Regions from separate parts of the Homo sapiens genome. Here region 2 is linked to region 1. The links come from fine-mapping of genetic effects on gene expression. A gene starts in region 1. The other region holds a variant in brackets. All regions are shown on one strand. Distances are between the middles of the regions. Region 1 holds the start of NCMAP (non-compact myelin associated protein). Region 2 overlaps NCMAP (non-compact myelin associated protein).

What was found. PIP is the estimated chance that this variant, and not a neighbour inherited with it, causes the effect.
Region 2: its variant is the best candidate, but not a certain one, in a credible set for the expression of NCMAP in pancreas (GTEx, PIP 0.53).

What each region holds. Positions count from the first base shown.
Region 1 is chr1:24,554,919-24,557,824 of GRCh38, forward strand. It overlaps NCMAP (non-compact myelin associated protein), which reads left to right and starts at 1,169. Exons shown (of 4, transcript NM_001010980.5): 1 at 1,169-1,251. NCMAP-DT (NCMAP divergent transcript) reads right to left here and starts at 1,106. Exons shown (of 3, transcript NR_109781.1): 1 at 898-1,106.
Region 2 is chr1:24,582,858-24,585,763 of GRCh38, forward strand. All of the region lies in intron 1 of NCMAP (non-compact myelin associated protein), which reads left to right. Among named protein-coding and RNA genes, the nearest start is that of NCMAP, 28 kb to the left of the region's middle. The variant G/A (reference allele first, on the strand shown) is at 1,745.

The DNA of each region.
Region 1 (2,906 bases):
AGGAGAGCAAGACCCAGTCTCCATAAAATAAAATGGGTTGGGAGCAGTGGCTCATCCAGCACTTTGAGAGGCCAAGGCTGGTGGATCACTTGAGGTCAAGAGTTGAAGACCATCCTGGCCAACATGGTGAAACCCTGTCCCTACCAAAATATATATATACATACACACACAAAAAAATTAGCCGGGTGTGGTGGCATGTGCCTGTAATCCCAGCTACTCGGGAGGCTAAGCCAAGAGAATCGCTTGAACCAGGAGGCAGAGGTTGCAGTAAGCCGAGATTGTGCCACCACACTCCAGCCTGGGCTGCAGAGTGAGATCCTGTCTCAAAGATAAATAAATAAATAAATACTACCTTGGAGTTTCCTATAAAAATACGTGTTTTCTTCCTATAAAAATCTTAGTTCTTAGCTGAGGAGAGTTTGAAAGCATCTCACAGGCACTGAGCGGCAAGGCAGTCGGCCCAGATGCAATCACTTTCTGGAAATCAATTGAAAATAGAACCGGGAAACCAGCCTCCACTCCTGATACTGTTACTAACCTGCTATAAGACTTTGTGCTCACCTTTGCTTCCTGGGCCTCAGCTTCCCTGTTTCTGAGAGAAGAGATCCCCTCTCCGAGATCTCTTCCCGCTTTCTATAAATATTGATTGAGTACCCGCTGCCTGCCAGGGATATCGCCCTGGGCTCCTGGGATACAGCTGGAATCTCGACAGCCTGGGGAGGAAGGAGCCTTTGATCCTACAGCGGCAAGAGTTCTTGACACTTGCCGGCTGCCAAGCCTGTTTCCTCCCGGTCTAACGTTCTGTGGTTGTCTGAATCTCCAGCTGCCCCTCAAAACCTTCAATCAGATTAGCGCCGTGCTCCTTTAAAGACCCTACTCAAAGTGCCTGGAGCTCACCTGGGTGTGTTTGTGAGGCCCTTTCCCTCTCTTTACCCCGCGGAGGAGTCCGACCTGGAAGCCTCCTGCTGGACTTCTCTACTGGACTGAGTGCCCGGGAGTGCCAGAGCCAGTCCCAAAAAGGACCCAGGAGCGGGGACACCACGGGGAGGCGCCGCCACTCCAGTGTGCGGGACCCTGGCACCCCCGGCGCGTTCTCCGGCCTCCCCAGGATCACCTGCACGGGGCGGGGCCGGGGGCGGGACGCCCCGGGCGGGGGCGGGATCCCAGGGTGGCAGCGCCGGGCGGCGGCGGGGACCCTGGCTGGGAGCGCGGCGGTGCCGGCGGGAGGCCGAGCGGGGCTCGACAGAGCAGGTAGGAGGCGCCTGGTCGCCGGGGTTGCCCGGGGCTGCGGGGAGCGAGGAGCGGTCCGGCCCAGGTGCGGTGGCTTCCTGTCCACCTGCCGGCCGCGCTGGGCGAAGGAGGGCCCGGGGGTGGGGACGAGGGGTCCCCAGTCTCACCCCCACATCTGTTGGAGGAAGTGCCTGGGGTCTGCGCGGGAGGGCGTTGGTCCGGGGTGGTGGGAGGGAGGCTGATCATCTCCAGTGGGTCTTGGAGACGAGGTCGTTTCCTTGTCCCCTCCCCACCCAAGCATCTGGCGGAGGGGCCGAGGCTCGCTGGAAGAAAAGGGAGTCGACCTTGACCCGGCCTGGAGATAAAGGAACTTTTACCCACTTGGGGCCTTATCCGCCCCATCTGTTAAATGGGCGCCTTGATGGGTCTGCCCTATGCAGAGGCCCCTCCGGAAGATCTGCGATTCAGCGAGATGAAAACCCACGGCAGAGAAGGAGCCCAGGGCCGTAGTTTCCATCCACAGCACGTTTGGAGGGGCTCGGGGGTCGCTCATCCAGCAGCGCTCCTGAGGAAGGATGCAGAGACGGCTCCAGTCCTCTGGGTATCCTTGTGGGAGGAGATGGCTGTGTCAAATATGAAGGCTGGATTAGAGAGACCAAGGCAGCCCTTGAGTCTGGGAGAAGATTCTGGAAGGCCCCTTGGAGGAGGTGGCATCTGAGTGGGGCAGGGAAAGGAAAGGTGGTGGTTAGGGCAGCGCTTTGGAGTCCCTGCTTTACCCCTCAGCCAAGGCCGTCCAACAGTCTCGGGCAAGTCCACACTTTTCTCTATGTTTCAGTTTGATGTGCTCCTTAAATGAAACAATTTCTCTGACAGATTAAATCAGATAACTCATAAAGTGTTTAATACAGGGTGGGTATATAGTAGGCACTCAATGAACATGAGCTATTAATGTCTGCTAGCAGCTGCTTGGGGGCAGGGATGATGCCTATTTGGTTCACCCTTGTATCCCCAGCACCAGCACGGTGCCCAGCATGCAGTAGGTCTCAATACATATTTGTCCAATGAATGAATGAATGCATATGAAGTACAATGCTTGGCACAAATAGTGAATTTACAGATGGCTGGTTCTAAGAGGTGGGTATGGATACTAGAGACAGTGGTCTAGGTGGATGGAACAGTTATAAGCAGAAGCCAAGAGCAACAGATTATAGGCACCCCCTCTTATGGTGCATGTGTGTATGTGTGCATGTGTGTGTGTGTGCGCTTGTGTGCATGTGTGTGCATGTGGGTGTGTGCACGTGTGTGCGTGTGTGTGCGTGTGTGTGTTGGTGGTGGTAGTAGAAAGTGACAGGCACAGCCAGAGCACCGGGATAGAAGAGGGCACATAATACCCTGGAATCCTGAGTCCCATCAGCCCGTGGGAGTGGATGATGGGGCAGGAACTCTAGGTAGGCCAATACCTTTACTCATGTCCTCTAAGTGGGGAGAGGGGACAGAAGGGCAGCCAAGAGACACCAAAGGACCATGAATGCCTGGTGGGAGGGGAGGAGGAAATGGGAAGGGGGTTCCCATGACCCCTTCATGGCCTGTGGCTTTCTTCACCTTGTCCCTGCTGGGCTCTGTGCTGGCTGGGGCCGAGATGAGCTGTGGGGAGGCAGCATGGTGCCAAGCCAGCC
Region 2 (2,906 bases), 28 kb after region 1:
TTTCCTAACTTCTCTGAGCCTCAGCTCCTATGTCTGTAAAATAGGAATAATATATGGAGAAAACATATACAAAGTACTTGGCATGGTAACTGGCACGTAAAAGACACTTGATCAATGGCAGTAATTGTGCTTTTGGTCATCGCCATCGTCGTCATCATCATGGTTATTGGTTGTTTATCCACAGGTATGAAAACAGACTGGACATTTTCCTTCTTATCTAGTTCTTCTTGGATAGGGAGAATAGGAAACTGTTAAGAGGCAGGCCAAATAGCTCTACTCCAGTGATTCTCAAGCAGAGAAAATTTTGTCTCCCAAGGACATTTGGAAATGTCCTGTAACATTTTTGGTTGTTCTAACTGGTGGGATGCTACTGGCATCTAGTGAGCAGAGAGGCCAAGGATGCTGCGATGGTGCTGAATATCCTATAATGCACAGGACAGCCCCTCACACCAAAGAATTACCTGGCCTGAATGTCAGTAGTACCAAGGATGAGAAACTCTGCCATACTCTGAGGCCTGGCTGTACCTCTTGGGCTCAAAATATCAACAGGTAGAAAGAAAAGTGAGCAGAGAGTTGCCAGGCACGGTGGCTCATGCCTGTAATCCCAGCACTTTGGGAGACCAAGGCGGGCGGATCACCTGAGGTCAGGAGTTCGAGACCAGCCTGGCCAACATGGGTGAAACCCCATCTCTACTAAAAATACAAAAAATTAGCTAGGTGTGGTGGCGCACATCTGTAATCCTAGCTACTCAGGAGGCTGAGGCAGGAGAATTGCTTGAACCCGGGAGGTGGAGGTTGCAGTGAGCTGAGATCACGCCACTGGACTCCAGACTGGGTGACAGAGCAAGACTCCGTCTCAGAAAAAAAAAAAAAAAAAAAAAGTGAGCAGGTGAGCAGAATCCTTCCCTAGCAGGGTCACTGACCATCAGAGTGTCCCCAGGAATACTGCTTACCTCCCGGGGACCAGGATTGCCGAGGACGGTTTGGAGTAGGAGATCTGAGTTTGAGACTCAGCTCCTCCACTGACCTGCTGTTAGATTTTGGGCAAGTCCCTTAACCTCTCTGAGCCTCCGTTTCCTATCAGCACAGTGGAGATGAAAAGACCTGCCTCGCTGTGTGGATTGAATGGGGAAGCATGTGAAAGCACAGTGCCTGGCACTTGCATAGGGTCTGCTTGAGTGTGGGCTTCCTTCCCTCCTGGCCTAGAATATCGAGGTGGCATTATTATCCTCTGACATATTCACTGAGGGGCATAAACCCATTAACCCTGTGCCCTCCCCCCGCCCCACAGGGACAGCGGGACACCTGGAGATTTACATGGGAGCTCCTATGGAGGTCGAGGACTCTCAAGAGTTGGGTCCTTGGCTTGAGCCCAGAGACTGAGAGGTAGACGGAAGCCACAGGTCACATTCTAGCTCTCAGTCAATCTCCACCACAATGTCCACGGGTCTCTTCCTCCCACCGACTTCTGGCACTGTGTGTGCCACCCTTTTGGCACCAGCAAAGTAAGCCTTGTGACCACTTTCAGCTGGGGTTTCTATTTATAACTCTTAGCACACTCAGCTTATCATATCTGCAGGTCTTGGGTTAGAAGCTCCTGGAGTCCCCTTTTCTTACAATGTGGGTCACAAAAATCAGAGCAAAGGACATCTGAGCCACCGTTTGACAGGGTGGGGAAGTAAGACTTCCCCTGAAGTCTGTGTGTGGTGGGCCTGAAACCCAGACTTCTGGAGCCACAGGCTGC[G/A]GCTTTTGCCATAGGACTGCAGTATGATATTGATCAGGCACCTTTCTGTGGTCAGTGCTGGGCTAGGCATGGGGTGGGCGGTGGGGTGGGGTTGATGCCCAGTACATGTGATTGAAGAAAAGATTCTGAAAGGAAACAATTCCTTTTCTCATTCTTTCGGTCTGAGTTCCTCAGGACATAATCCCCTTGGCCCCTCTGGTTTTTTGGTTTTTATTTTATTTATTTATGTATTGTTCTTTGGTTTAAAACAGACCCACGGCCCTCTTTGCGTCTTCTCAGTCCTATGCACAGGGTGGGCATTGATTGAATGGATGGGAGGACAGATGGACAGAAGAACGGGTGGAAGGACTGTGTGCCCAGTGAGTGGGTGGGCGGGTGGGTGGGTGGGGGCATGAGTGGATAGCAGGATGAAAGAATAGATGGGTAAATGGAGCAGAAAATGTGCTCCCTTATTTCTGGGAACCAACTACAAGGAACACATGTTCAGTATGTAATTGTGTATGGCCTCCAGTTCAGGGGAGCACACGGCAGAATTCCTACCCCAACTTTGGGAGCTGTGATACACAGAGCCATGAACAGACAGGGCAGACGGGGTGGGGAGCTTATGATAAGGGATCCAAGAGGAATAGAGGGTGAAGGAAATGGCCATGAAGGATTCAGGCGGCTCGGGTGACTATGTACCCTACAGAGTGCTTGGAAGTTCATTCCCGGGTTTCCTTTCTTGTGCACTGCTGTTGCCAAATCAAAGCCCCTTCATGGAATCTGCCTCGGTTTGTTCCAGTCTCTAGTGCCTTCTAGGAAGGATCGCTGCTTTCCAGAGTGATGTGCTCACGCTGACTTCCCTCTCCTCACATCCCCTGAGTCCATATCTACAAAGAAGAATAAGCTTTTGGAAGACACTGGTTCTTGTGAAGCTATGAACAGTTCCATGTAACAGAATCACTGGTTGGAAAAGCCCTTAGAGATGATCTCCAAACTGGGCTATTTTACAGGCAGGAAAACCAAGGTCCAGGGAAGGGAGAGGACTTTCCAGGATCAGGTAGCAAATGAGTGACAAGGGAAATCCTGGTCTTCCGAGTCTCAGGTTATGAATCCACAGCTTGCTCTTCCCCTGCCCAGCCACAGCCCCTGTGTCCCACCGGTCCCATCAGGACTTTTTTCT